Linked DNA regions of Homo sapiens. The protein of the gene in region 1 interacts with the protein of each later gene in a biochemical or structural test. Each region holds a gene or a part of one and is shown on either strand. Other genes may lie near its edges.

Region 1 (4,000 bases):
AACCAAGGAGTGTAATTCTCCTGTTCTTAATATGCGGCCAGGTTAATGAATGTCACGTGAATGAACCAGAAAAAAATGAAGTGTGCCCTTGATCAGCTGGGTTGGTGTGCAGCAAGCTGTGTGACCAGGGGACAGCAGTGGTCCTGAGGGCCGTCACTGTCTGCCGTGCAGAGCCCTTCCTCCCACGGGGGCCTACCTCACCTGTGCCAAGGGCTTGTCTGTGGTCAGTGACCTGGATAGATCTGAATGGGGCTTCTTTTTCGAGGAGTCTTATGGCAGGTCTCTCAGTAAAGACTCCATTCTTGATGATCACACATTTTGGATTTTCCAAATCTGTCAGAGAATGGGCTTGAGGCGGGGTTTGTGGGCACTAGTTTCACTGGTTTCATTTACCAAAAAGGGGAGCAGAAGTCAAGTATGGTGGCTCATCCCTGTAATCCCAGAGGCAAGAGAATTGCTTGAGCCCAGGAGTTCGAGACCAGCCTGAGCAACATAAGGAGACCCCGTCTCCACAAAAATGAAAAATAACATTTTAGTCAGACGTGGTGGCATGCATCTGTGGTCCCAGCTGCTTGGGAGGGTGAGATGGGAGGGTTGTTTGAGCCCTGGAGTTAAAGTTGCAATGAGCTGTGATTGCACCACTGCACTCTAGCCTGGGTGACAGAACGAGACCCTGTCTCAAAAAAAAAAAAAAAGAAAGAAAGAAAGGAAAAAAAAAACTCATGCCTGTAATCCCAGCACTTTGGGGACCGGGGTGGGCAGATCACGAGGTCAGGAGATCAAGACTATCCTGGCCAACATGGTGAAACCCCGTTTCTACTAAAAATACAAAAATTAGCCAGGTGTGGTGGCACGTGCCTGTAATCCCAGTTACTCGGGAGGCTGAGGCAGGAGAATCGCTTGAACCAGGGAGTCAGAGGTTGCAGTGAGCTGAGATCGTGCCACTGTACTCCAGCCTGGGCGACAGAGTGAGACTCTGTCTCAAACCAAAAAAAAGGGGTGGGGGGCGGGGGCAGGAGAACAGTGAGAGGTAGGGAGAGGAAAGGGGATTCTCGCTACACCCAAACCAGATACCATCTAGAGGCTAGAATCTTTGGGAGGCTCAAATTCCCTAGAAAGCAGGAGAAGCTTCTGTAGCCCTCCCGCTTTCCCAGTAGATTAAGCCCAGGGCGGCTCCAGATGTGTGACATGCTCTGTGCCCAACCAGAGCCCATCATAGGCAGAGGAATAACACCCACACCAGAAGGGCCCTCGGAGGTCACCACGTCCAAGAACCCTCTTTACAGATGAGGAAACTGAGGCCCAGAGAGGGGAGAGCCACCTAGCGAGCTGGTGGCGGCTAGACCAGGAGAGCTGTCATTCCAAGCAAGCAAAGGCAACGAGACGAGCCCAGAGCTGTGCTCCCATCTCTTTGTTAGGGGGCCTGGGATGCCCTCTCAGTGTCATTTTGTCCAGGATGATGCTCCCTCTCTTAAGCGATTAATGCGCCCTTGCTAACCTTTTGCTATCGCTGCCTCTTCAAACCAGAGGAGTTGAGAGTTCCGGGCCGGCAGAGGAAGGCGCCTGAAAGGCCCCTGGCCAATGAGATTAGCGCCCACGTCCAGCCTGGACCCTGCGGAGAGGCCTCTGGGGTCTCTGGGCCGTGCCTCGGGGAGAAAGAGCCAGAAGCTCCCGTCCCGCTGACCGCGAGCCTTCCTCAGCACCGTCCCGTTTGCCCAGCGCCTCCTCCAACAGGAGGCCCTCAGGAGCCCTCCCTGGAGTGGGGACAAAAAGGCGGGGACTGGGCCGAGAAGGGTCCGGCCTTTCCGAAGCCCGCCACCACTGCGTATCTCCACACAGAGCCTGAAAGTGGTAAGGTGGTCCAGGAAGGCTTCCTCCGAGAGCCAGGCCCCCCAGGTCTGAGCCACCAGCTCATGTCCGGCATGCCTGGGGCTCCCCTCCTGCCTGAGGGCCCCAGAGAGGCCACACGCCAACCTTCGGGGACAGGACCTGAGGACACAGAGGGCGGCCGCCACGCCCCTGAGCTGCTCAAGCACCAGCTTCTAGGAGACCTGCACCAGGAGGGGCCGCCGCTGAAGGGGGCAGGGGGCAAAGAGAGGCCGGGGAGCAAGGAGGAGGTGGATGAAGACCGCGACGTCGATGAGTCCTCCCCCCAAGACTCCCCTCCCTCCAAGGCCTCCCCAGCCCAAGATGGGCGGCCTCCCCAGACAGCCGCCAGAGAAGCCACCAGCATCCCAGGCTTCCCAGCGGAGGGTGCCATCCCCCTCCCTGTGGATTTCCTCTCCAAAGTTTCCACAGAGATCCCAGCCTCAGAGCCCGACGGGCCCAGTGTAGGGCGGGCCAAAGGGCAGGATGCCCCCCTGGAGTTCACGTTTCACGTGGAAATCACACCCAACGTGCAGAAGGAGCAGGCGCACTCGGAGGAGCATTTGGGAAGGGCTGCATTTCCAGGGGCCCCTGGAGAGGGGCCAGAGGCCCGGGGCCCCTCTTTGGGAGAGGACACAAAAGAGGCTGACCTTCCAGAGCCCTCTGAAAAGCAGCCTGCTGCTGCTCCGCGGGGGAAGCCCGTCAGCCGGGTCCCTCAACTCAAAGGTCTGTGTCTTGAGCTTCTTCGCTCCTTCCCTGGGGACCTCCCAGGCCTCCCAGGCTGCGGGCACTGCCACTGAGCTTCCAGGCCTCCCGACTCCTGCTGCTTCTGACGTTCCTAGGACGCCACTAAATCGACACCTGGGTGCAGCTGCTCCACTCCCTCGGCCTCCTCCCGTGCTCAGGCTGTGGCCGCACGCGCCCCTCACGCTTGCCCGCCACTCTGCATGTCACCAGCACCCCCGCTCCGTGCTACCCACCTTGTTTGACTCTCTGGCCACTTGATTTGTCCACAACGGCCCATCAGCCCACAGGAGGTTTGGTGGGTGCCTTCCACCGACAGGATGACGGGTGCCCTCATGGTGTCTAGAACTCTCCAACCCTCCCATGTAGGCATAAGCAGCCCCACTTTGCAGATGAGGAAACGGAGGCTCAGAGAAGTACAGTAACTTGCCGAAGGCCAATGAGTAGTAAGTGACAGAGCCAGGTTTGGGATCCAGGTAGGTTGTCTCTGAAAGACACGCCTGTCCTGCATCCCACAACGCCTCCCAGGAGGTGCTGGAGTGTGGACGCCTAACACAGAGATGTGCAGGGCACACACAGCAGGTGACACACACAGCATCCAGAGGTGGCCCAGAGCTCATGCTGTGCCTTTGGCCCAGTGCCCTGCCCCCACCCACTCTGCCTTGTGGCAGGAAGACAAGGAGCAGACACAAGATCTCCCTGGTCCACATGCCACCACCTCCCTCTGCAGAGGACAAGGGGATCCTCATGCTGGCATTGGAGGGGGTTGAGCAGGGCCCACCTTGAGCCCTCAGGAGCACGACCACAGCAGCCCTGCAGGGAGGGATTGGTGGGAGGAGAGTCCCAAGTATCAGGGAGAGGAGAGTTGGTGTCCCACAGGAGACCTCAGAGCCACAAGGCGAGCTTGTTCATAAATTTGGGACCCTTAGCATTTCACAGTTATTTGCAGAGCCCAGAAATGGATGTTACTGAAGCTCACAGTTGCAAGCATCTGTTAAATTTTTATTAGATTTTACTTTTAGGGAAAACTTTGAAATGCTATAAAGAAGCCTGTGTTTAAAAGTTAAGACAGAGGCTGGGGGCGATGGCTCACGCCTGTAATCTCAGCACTTTGGGAGGCCAAGGCAGGTGGATCATTTGAGGTTAGGAGTTCGAGACCAGCCTGGCCAACATGGTGAGACCCTGTCTCTACTAAAATTACAAAAAATTAGCTGGGCGTGGTGGCGGGCACCTGTAGTCCCAGCTACTGGGGAGGCTGAAGCAGGATAAGTGCTTGAACCCAGGAGGCAGAGGTTACAGTGAGCCAAGATCACACCACTGTACCCTAAGCCTGGGCGACAGAGTGAGACTCTGTCTCAAAAAATAAAATAAAATAAAGTTAAGAGAGAAA
Region 2 (3,952 bases), on another chromosome or scaffold:
ATTTTTCGACTGGCTTTTTTTTATGGTCTAAAAGTTATCAGCTATTTGAATTTCTTCTGAAAGTAAGTCCTGTAACAAAGAATATTACAATAAAATTTCCTCAACACAAATGTTTATTTCAAGTTTAGAGATTAAAAATTTTTTTAAAAAAAATACAGAGATGGAGTCTCACTGTGTTGCCCAGGCAGGTCTCAACCTCCTGAGCTCAAGCAATCCTCTTTTCTCAGCCTCCCAAAGCAATGGGATTACAGGCATGAGCCACCATGCCCAGCCTATTTTTTATTTTTTAGAGATGACATCTTGCTATGTTGCCCAGGCTGCCCTCAAGCTCTTGGGTTCAAGCCATCCTCCACCTCAGCCTCCTGAGTAGCTGGGACTATAGCCATGTCCCATTGCCCTGCTTTGAAAGATTTTATGTCGTTTCAAGATAGCAGGCCAGGTGTGATGGCACACATCTATAATCTCAAGAATTTGGCAGGGCCACTTGAGGCCAGGAGTTCAAGACCAGCCTGGGCAACATAACAAGATCCCGTCTCTACAAAATATTTTACAAATTAGCTGGGTGTGGTGGTATGTTGAGTGTAGTCCCAGCTACTCAGGAGGCTGAGGGAGGAGAATGGCTTGGGCTCAGGAGTTCAAGGTTGAAGTGAGCTATGACTGTGCCACTGCACTCCAGCCCAGATGACAGAGCAAGACCTGGTCTAGAAAAAATAAAGTTTTCATTTAATGCACAACACAATAAATGAATGTTTTTGTTTAAAATGAAAAGTTTATTTGCTGAGTACACCAAATAGGATGCAAGCACTGTCATGACAAATATACAGAAATATGCAGATCAACATAAAACAGTAATTTAGTTTAAATGAAGGGAAATCTCTTTAAATGTTATGACAACATACTCCCAAGAAGAACCTTTTCTTCAGTTAAGTTAATTATACATTTCAATAAAATAAAGGATAATGGATTAGTGGAAGTTAGCTTGTGAATTTTTCTTAAAAATAAAACTCCAACTCTATTAATCCATGCCAGTTAAACACTATAACTAAAATTTCCAAATAAGCGCAAAAGGAGATGAAGCAGTTAGTTACCTTTTTTGCTTGAACAGTCCAAAGGAAAATGGTTACTATAAATACAGCAGGCAAACTGTTAGACTGACCTAGAACATAGTGTACTAAATTTCAGTCTCAAATTGTGCTAAATGCTCATCATTAGTATGGCACATTTGGTCCATGATGTGGTTTAATGCCAAGACAGATCCCAATTTGTTACAGAAACACATAGATTACTGTTGCTTTTTGTTTTTAAATACATATATTTTAAAAAGCCAGGTATACTTCCACATACAAAGGCAGGTTTCCCAGGAGAAATTTATAGGAAGTAGTCTGGGGTGCGCCGTGTAACATGAGGCTCACCACGACGAGGCGCTGGGTCAAATTGAAGGCTGTAAATGGCAAAAAAGGAAGCAAATAAAGGATCTGACTTTGCAAAGAAAACAAATGAATAAAGAACAAGACACTGTAGTAGAAACAGCAGTCCTGCTTTCCCACCATGACTACATCACTTACGGCTGGAATGGCCATGGGCAAATCACTGCAGATGCTCCCATTCCAACTAACTGCTTCATAGGGCTATGGTGAAAATTTAAGAAGACAGAATGTCTGGTTTGGTGCCTGGCATAACAATTTCTAAATGTTATTATTATTTAAAAGCTTAAATAATTAAAGATTAAATAATATCAAGTTTAAATAATTAAACAATAATTGTTTAATATTATTTAATAATAATAATAATATCACTTTTTTTTTTTTTTTTTTTGAGGCAGAGTCTTGCTCTGTCGCCCAGGCTGGAGTGCACTGGCACGATCTCGGCTTATTGCAAGCTCCGCCTCCTGGGTTCATACCATTCTCCTGCCTCAGCCTCCTGAGTAGCTGGGACTACAGGAACCCATTACCATGCCCGGCTAATTTTCTTATTTTTTTTTAGTAGAGACGGGGTTTCACCGTGTTAGCCAGGATGGTCTCATCTCCTGACCTCATGATCCACCCGCTTCGGCCTCCCAAAGTGCTGGGATTACAGGCGTGAGCCACCGCGCCAGGCCTAATATCACTATTTTCTTGAGTGTTTCTGGCTAGTGGATTTTTCCAATTATTTTTGTGCCTCTATTGAGATGATCATGTGTTTTTTAATCCCTTAATATTAATATGGTTTATTATATTGATTTTCATGTTTTGAACCAACCTAGCATTCCTGGGATAAATCCCACTTGCTCATGGTGTATAATCTTTTTACATATTGCTAGATCCAGGTTGCTGGTACGTATGTTGGAAAATTTTATATCTGTATTCGTAACAAATGCTGGTCTGTTTTTGCCTTTGTCTACTTTTGGTATCAAGGATAATAGTGCAGGTGTGACAGAATGAATGCAGTAGTCCTCCTCTTCTGTTTTTTGGAAGTGTTTGTGAAGGATTGGCATTAACTCGTTTTTATTTTTGAGACAGGGTCTCACTCTGTTGCCCAAGCTGGAGTGCAGTGGTGTGATCATGGCTCACTGTAGCCTCAACCTCCCTGGGCTCAGGTGATCCTCCCACTTCAGCTTCCTGAGTAGCTGAGACTATAGGCTGAGCCACCACACCAGGTTAATTTTTGTATTCTTTGTAGATACAGGGTTTTACCATGTTACCCAGGCTGATCTTGAATCCTGGGCTCAATCTGCCTGCCTTGGCTTCCCAAAGTGCTAGGATTACTGGTTAGAGCCACCGCACCTGGCCAATTCCTTTCTTTAAACATTTGGTGGACTTCATCAATGAAGCCAATTGGGCTTGGCCTTTTATTTGTGGGGAGTTTTAACTTTTTCACTCATTTATTTATATTCTTTTAAATTAAATAGGGACAAGGTCCTGCTATGTTGTCCAGGCTGGTCTCAAACTCCTAGTCTCAAGCAATCCTCTCAGCTTGGCCTCCCAAAGCTGGGATTTATAGGTGTGAGCCACCATGCTGGCTCAATATTTTCACATTTGAAAGGTCATTCAGATTTCATATTTCTTGAGTCAGTTTCAGTAGTTTCTTTTTAGGAATTAGTACGTTTTATCAAAGTTACTGAATTTGCTGGCATATAGTTATTTATTGTATTCCCTTATAATCCTTTTTATTTCAGTAAGGTCTCTAGTGATTTGGTAATGTGAGTCTTTACTCCTTTTTTTCTTGGCCAGTCTAGTTAAGGCTTTTCAAAGCATCAACTTTGGGTTTTGTTGATTTTTCTGTAATGATTTTCTACTGTTTGTTTATTTCTACTCTAAACCTCGTTTCATAAGCTTACATCAGGTTTAGTTTACTCTGCTTTTTCTAGGTCCTCAAGTATAAAGATAGGTTACTGATTTCAAATCTTCTTGTTTTTTTTTTTGTTTTTTTCTTTCTGAGACAGGGTCTTTGCTCTGTTGCCTAGGCTGTAGTGTAGTGCTGTGATCATAGCTCATTGCAGCCTTGATCAACTGGGCTCAAGTGATCCTCCATCTCAGCCTCCCATACAGCTGAGACTACAGGTGCTTGGCACCATACCTGGCTAATTTTTAAATTTTTTTGTAGAGACGGGGTCTCCCTATGTTGCCCAGGCTGGCCTCAAGTGATCCTCCTACTTTGGCTTCCCAAAGTGTTGGGATTACTTGTGTGAGCCACAGCATCCAGCCATGTTAATGATTTCTAATTTCATTTCCTTGTGTTTGGAGAATATCCTTTTAAGAATCTAATCTTCTTAAATTGCCTGAGGCATGTTTTACAGTCTAGCATATGACTATGTTTCATGTTTACTTGAGAGGAAAGTATTCTGCTGTTGTTGGGTGTTGTTTTACAGACATGAGGTATACAGTCAGTTTACAGTGTTGCTCAAGTCTTCTCCTGCCTTCATCTCCTGCCTAGTTGTTCTATCCAAGAGAAACAGTTTCTGTTGCTTAGTTTT
Region 3 (3,749 bases), on another chromosome or scaffold:
GGAGGGTCTCAGGTCGACGGCTGAGCGAGCCACACTGACCCACCTCCGTGGCGCAGGAGCGGCGAGTGGTGGAAGGCGCAGTCCCTGACCACGGGCCAGGAAGGCTTCATCCCCTTCAATTTTGTGGCCAAAGCGAACAGCCTGGAGCCCGAACCGTAAGTGGGGACCCGTCGTGGGGGTGGGTAGGAGCAGATCTAGGGATCCTGGAGCAGGGAGTAGGCCTGGGGTGGCGGTGAAGGCTTGAGGGCCACGGAGGAAGATCCGACGACAGCCGACGGCCTTCGTTCGCTTCCGCCCTGCACAGCTGGTTCTTCAAGAACCTGAGCCGCAAGGACGCGGAGCGGCAGCTCCTGGCGCCCGGGAACACTCACGGCTCCTTCCTCATCCGGGAGAGCGAGAGCACCGCGGGTGAGCGGGCGGCGGTCTCGACCGGGCGCGGGGGTGCCCCGGGGTGTGCCCGAGGGGGGGCGCAGGGTGAGCCCGAGGTGGAGACACGGGGTGAGTCGGAGGGGGACGCGGGATGAGCCCGAGGTGGGGGCGCGGGATGACCCGGAGTTGGGGGTGCTGGGTGAGCCCAAGGTGGGGGCGCGGTGGCGGGCCAGACTCACTGCGTTCTTTCGTCGCTTTGTCCATCCATTCATTCATTCAGGATCGTTTTCACTGTCGGTCCGGGACTTCGACCAGAACCAGGGAGAGGTGGTGAAACATTACAAGATCCGTAATCTGGACAACGGTGGCTTCTACATCTCCCCTCGAATCACTTTTCCCGGCCTGCATGAACTGGTCCGCCATTACACCAGTGAGCCCGACGGGACCCCTCCCCCGTGCCCTATCAGCCTATCTCCCCTCAGTCCCCCTCAGGTGTCCCCCATCCATCTTTCAATGCCCTACTCCATTCCCCGCAGTGGGTGAGGTGTGGAACCTGACCCTACGGCCCCAAGTGTTTGGGTGACAGCCCCACACCCCCTTGCTAGTCCACTTCACCTAGATGGGGGCTTGGAGAAGTGGGGGAGGTGGTGTCAATACGAGGCCTGCCCTATTGACAGCCTTCACCCCTCCCTCGTCCTCGCAGATGCTTCAGATGGGCTGTGCACACGGTTGAGCCGCCCCTGCCAGACCCAGAAGCCCCAGAAGCCGTGGTGGGAGGACGAGTGGGAGGTTCCCAGGGAGACGCTGAAGCTGGTGGAGCGGCTGGGGGCTGGACAGTTCGGGGAGGTGTGGATGGGTGAGTGTGGCCTCCAGGACTGCCTGGGAAGAGGGGAACGGGAGGGGCCGCTGAGGTGATGAGAGTCCCAGGACAGCTGCCTGGCGACTTTCCCACTCCTTCCCTTCCCCGACCCAGGGTACTACAACGGGCACACGAAGGTGGCGGTGAAGAGCCTGAAGCAGGGCAGCATGTCCCCGGACGCCTTCCTGGCCGAGGCCAACCTCATGAAGCAGCTGCAACACCAGCGGCTGGTTCGGCTCTACGCTGTGGTCACCCAGGAGCCCATCTACATCATCACTGAATACATGGAGAATGGTGGGTGCTACCCGAGTCGGCTACCAGGGGATACTGCTCTCCCTGCTGTCCCTGCCAGAGGGTGGAAATACACCTTTTCTTCTGGCCCAAAGCTCAAGCAAGGAGGGTTTCTTGAGCTTTCCTGCCCCCTGGAGACTCACCTCCAGCCGGGCGCGGTGGCTCAGGCCTGTAATCCCAGCACTTTGGGAGCCGAGGCGGGCAGATCACGAGGTCAGGAGTTCGAGACCAGCCTGACCAATATGGTGAAACTCTGTCTCTACTAAAAATACAAAAAGTAGCCAGGTGTGGTGGCACATGCCTGTAATCCCAGCTACTCAGAAGACTGAGGCAGGAGAATCCCTTTAATCCGGGAGGTGGAGGCTACAGTTGCAGTGAGCTGAGATCATGCCACTGAACTCCAGCCTGGGTGACAGAGCAAGACTCTATCAAAAAAAAAAAAAAAAAAAAGACTCACCTCCAGGCATGAGAAAAAGGTGTATCCTCTGATCTGATCCTGTCTGGGGGCAAGCCTAAGGTGGCAAGAATGTTCTGGAAGAGCATTCACCCCAACCTTCCCTGACCTGCCATTCTGTTTGCCTTCTTCAAAGCCCTACCTTGATCTCAGGATGCTTGATCTCAGAAAGCAAGTGGGTCCCTAGCCCTGTTTCTCTCCCTTCTGCCCCTGAGCCCTAGGAGGGCAGATCTGCCCCCAAAGCCCTCTTTTTCAGTTCTGAGTGAGACCCCCACCCCTGCACCCCTCTTGGTCTGTTACTGGACAGAGTGAGAGCCCCAGGAAGAGGAATATGAGTTTCTAGCTTCAGCTTTGTTCACACCGATTTGCCGTGTGACAGGCCAAGTGCCTGCACTGTCTCTGGTGCTCAGTTTCCCCAAGTATAACAGCAGAAATCTAAATGGGCTCACCAGAAATAATACAGAGTATTCATCAAGGCCTCTAGAGTCTGACTGCCTGGGTCAGAAGCCTGGCTTCATGATTTTATGGCTTTGTGATAATTATATCACCTCTTTCTGCCATGGTTTCCTACTATAATAACGCGTTAGTAACTTCCTCACAGGGTCTTGTGAGGATGAAATAATTAATGCATACAGAGCAGTTAGAACTATGCCTACTTCCAGGTGCTGTGGCTCAAGCCTATAACTCCAGCACTTTGGGAGGCCAAGGTGGGTGGATCACTTGAGCCCAGAAGTTCAAGACCAGTCTGTGCAACATAGCGAGACTTCATTCCTACAAAAAAATGTTTAAAAATTAGCTGGGCATAGTGGTGTATGCCTGTAGTCCCAGCTACTTGGGAGGCTGAGGTGGGAGGATCACTTGAGCCCAGGAGGTTGAGGCTGCACTGAGCTGTGATTGCACCACTGCACTCCAACCTGGGTAACAGAGCGAGACCTTGTCTCAAAACAAAAAACCCACAAAACTATGGCTACCATATAGTAACTGATCAATAAGTTTGTTGCTGTTATCTGGCTCTGATTCTTTGGGAGTGTAAGATCTATCCTTTTTTCAGGAAGAGAAACAAGCTGTTCATTGGCTAATGGGAAATGGCAAATAGATTATGTCATGTGTATCTTTTTTTTTTTTGAGTCTCACTCTGTCCTCCAGGCTGGAGTGCAGTGGCATGATCTCGGCTCACTTCAGCCTCCCCCTCCTGGGTTCAAATGATTCTCATGCCTCAGTCTCCCAAGTAGCTGGGACTACAAGCATGTGCCACCATGCCTGGCTAATTTTTGTATTTTTAGTAGAGACAGGTTTTCGCCTTGTTGGCTAGGCTGGTCTCGATCTCCTGTCCTCAGGTGATCCTCCCGCCTTGGCCTCCCAAAGTGCTGGGATTACAGATGTGAGCCACCATGCCCAGCCTATCATGTGTATCGACTTTGATTGGTAGTTGCTTGTAGTGCTGGAGAAGGATTCTGAGGTTCATTGGAAGTGAGTGCCAGGAATGATTAGTAACATCTGCCATGGATACAATGGAAGAATGGCAGTATATCTATGTCTATGTATTTGCTGTGTGTAGGTGAGGTCTTTGTCTTTGGTAACTAGTTCAGCACTCAAAGTGGGGACACTCAGGTTGCTGTCATCCTTTTACAGGGTTTTAATCTCTTGGGAAGGGCCATTGGTCACTCACTGCATCCTAGCAACTCCCATCCATGTCCAGCTGCCCTCCACTATTAGAGAGGTGGTCCCTCAGACCCCCAGACCCCCTCTTTCTTATTCCATCCAATATATTCAGCA
Region 4 (2,504 bases), on another chromosome or scaffold:
AGGCCATCCCCACTCCGGAATTAAACCTCAGCCCCTCCCACAGAGTTTTCTCAAATCTGTGAAGTTTCTTCAAAAGGCGGTGGAGGTGCTCAGCAGTGCAAGGTGGGGGGTGGAGGGGGTGGGGAGTAGAGGGAGTGGGGGTTCCACGGGTTTGGGTCTTGCCCAGTGGGCACATGGCCTGTGTAATAGGAAACAAGTCCATTCTCCTGCTGTGGGGGGCAGAGGAGCTGGCGGGGCGAGGGAGGGGGAGATGTGGGCTCAGGTATTCTTGGTGGATGCGCTTCGTTCTGTGGCTGATGGGGTGGCTTAAAAGATCTTAACAGAGAGAGATCAGGAAGCCAGACTGCAAGGTGGGGGACATTTCCTAAGAGCAAGTGTACCCTCCATTCCCTCTTTTGAGGAACAAAGAGTATCTTTGCTGGGGCCTGAGTCATCCATGAAAACAGACAGCAGCGGTGTCCCAGGGCAGGGCTTGCCTGGCGTGGATTGGGGTGGTGCTGCCCCCAGTGAGGGGCAGCACAAGGGGAGACAGAAATGGAGGAATAGCCCCCGTAAGGGCAAGCCCAGTGTGCACCAGTGCCCAGAGCTGCCTGATGGAGGAACAGCTCCGTAAGGGTGAACCCAGTGTGCACGGGTGCCCGGAGCTGCCTGCGTGAGGCTGGGGGCTAGTTTGGATGAGGGCATGGCTCAACTTTCACTTGGCACATTGAAATAGCTTTTGCTGTCTGCTAGGGTGTGGAAAACTGTTTTTCCATGGCCCCAAGCAATGCTATAGCTACAGCTGAGGAGGGAGGAATCTCTCCCTGCCTCTCCTCCCAACTCTTGGCTTTTGCTTCCTTAAATTTGAACAATTCCCTAAGATCTAATGCTGGGAGGCTCCCCTTCCTTCATTACACAGTGAACTCATGTGCTCTATCTGCATTCCCCCTAAATCCTCCTGAGCTTTTAGGTAAGAGGCCGATGATTTCACAATCGGCAGCAGAGGCCTAAGGCCATTCCATCAAACTGAAGATGGCAGCAAGTTGTCCTCACTTCTTCATTGAGCACCCATGGGTGTGTACTGGAGCAAGGGTGGTGCCAGGGATTCTCCTGCTCTGGTTCCTCCTGCGGGGTCCCTGCTCAGCTGGGCAGCTGCCCTCACTCTGGGCGGGTGGCATGTGAGTGTCAACAGGGCCCCTCTCAGTCAGGGGCTCTTGGCCATTTTTTGTGCCATGGATCGCTTCTCAAAATCATATTTTCTTTTCTTTTCTTTTGAGATGGGGTCTCACTCCATTACCCAGGCTGGAGTGCAGTGGTGCAATCACAGCTCACTGTAGCCTCGACCTCCCTGGGTTCAGGTGATCCTCCCACCTCAGCCTCCCAAGTAGCTGGGACTATAGGCATGCACCACCATGCCTGGCTAATTTCAGAATAATATTTTCATACACATAAAATATGTAGGATTACAAAGTAAGCTAGTTATATTTATATACAGTTGTCAAAATATTTTTAAAATGTATAACGTGATACTATGTGTATAGGTTTCTTTATTAACATATTGAATAAAAAGATCGAGGGTAGGCCTATTAAACAATGGTAAACTGAAGAGAGATGAGTGTAAACAATATTTTAAGATAGATACCTGTGGCAAACTGTAAAGGGATATGAAAAACTCTGTAATTTCTATTGGCACTGCTGATACAACTGCACTTTGCTACCTTTGTTCATAACCAAGGAAATAGAAATGACTGAAAATAAAGTTGTATTCTATTCCAATCCAAGTGCACAGACCCCTGAATTCTATAGTTTGTGGACCCCAGTTATGAGCTATTGGAATGAGGCTGTTCTAGCTACTGAAATGAGGCTTTAGGTATCCTCTGTCAATTCCTAACAAACCCCCCAGCCCCACCCTCTATGATCATGGAGCCAGGCTGGAAACTTCCAGCACTGCACCTGGACGCCCACACACTCATCAGGGCCCGCTCCTCTGGACCGCCCAACCTCACCATCTGGGTAGAAATGGACCTGACTGGGGCATTTTGCTAGGGCAGCACTCCCCAACGTTTTTAGCTCCAGGGACTGGTTTTGTGGAAGACAACTTTTCCATGGATGGAAAGGTTTTGGGTGGGGAATGGTTTTGGGTGAAACTGTTCCACTTCAGATCATCAGGCATTAGATTCTCATAAGGAACGTGCAACCTGGATCCCTTGCATGTGCAGTTCACAATAGGGTTCGTGCTCCTATGAGAATCTTGTGCCGCCACTGATCTGGCAGGAGGCAGAGCTCAGGCTGTAATACTCACCTGCGGCTCACCTCCAGCTATGCAGCTCGTTCCTAACAGGCCACAGACAGGTATCGGCCCCCTGCCTGGGGGTTGGGGAACCCTGTGTTAGGGAATTGGTGGAGGCCTCTATATCTAGTTTGCAGAATGGGTGGAACTCCTCCATCCCTGCCCTACTGTGGTCCCTCTAAACAATTTTACTGATGAAGACACTTAGGCCCAGAGTAGGGCGAGGGCTCAGGTC

The links.
Region 2: of the proteins of MAPT (region 1) and PPP2CB, one has a biochemical effect on the other in vitro, tested with the Homo sapiens proteins (2 studies listed by BioGRID).
Region 3: the proteins of MAPT (region 1) and LCK form a complex in vitro, tested with the Homo sapiens proteins (2 studies listed by BioGRID, with this or other methods).
Region 4: of the proteins of MAPT (region 1) and MAPK13, one has a biochemical effect on the other in vitro, tested with the Homo sapiens proteins (2 studies listed by BioGRID).

Annotation. Positions count from the first base shown.
Region 1 is NC_000017.11:45,981,339-45,985,338, forward strand, and holds part of MAPT (microtubule-associated protein tau), read left to right. Parts: intron 1-1,527; coding exon 1,528-2,592; intron 2,593-4,000. UniProt on the Homo sapiens protein: Promotes microtubule assembly and stability, and might be involved in the establishment and maintenance of neuronal polarity.
Region 2 is NC_000008.11:30,784,867-30,788,818, forward strand, and holds the end of PPP2CB (serine/threonine-protein phosphatase 2A catalytic subunit beta isoform), read right to left. Parts: intron 1,442-3,952; coding exon 1,369-1,441; 3' UTR 750-1,368; downstream 1-749.
Region 3 is NC_000001.11:32,275,265-32,279,013, forward strand, and holds part of LCK (tyrosine-protein kinase Lck), read left to right. Parts: intron 1-56; coding exon 57-155; intron 156-304; coding exon 305-408; intron 409-649; coding exon 650-799; intron 800-1,072; coding exon 1,073-1,225; intron 1,226-1,342; coding exon 1,343-1,522; intron 1,523-3,749. UniProt on the Homo sapiens protein: Non-receptor tyrosine-protein kinase that plays an essential role in the selection and maturation of developing T-cells in the thymus and in the function of mature T-cells. Plays a key role in T-cell antigen receptor (TCR)-linked signal transduction pathways.
Region 4 is NC_000006.12:36,142,767-36,145,270, forward strand, and holds the end of MAPK13 (mitogen-activated protein kinase 13), read left to right. Parts: 3' UTR 1-1,755; downstream 1,756-2,504. UniProt on the Homo sapiens protein: Serine/threonine kinase which acts as an essential component of the MAP kinase signal transduction pathway.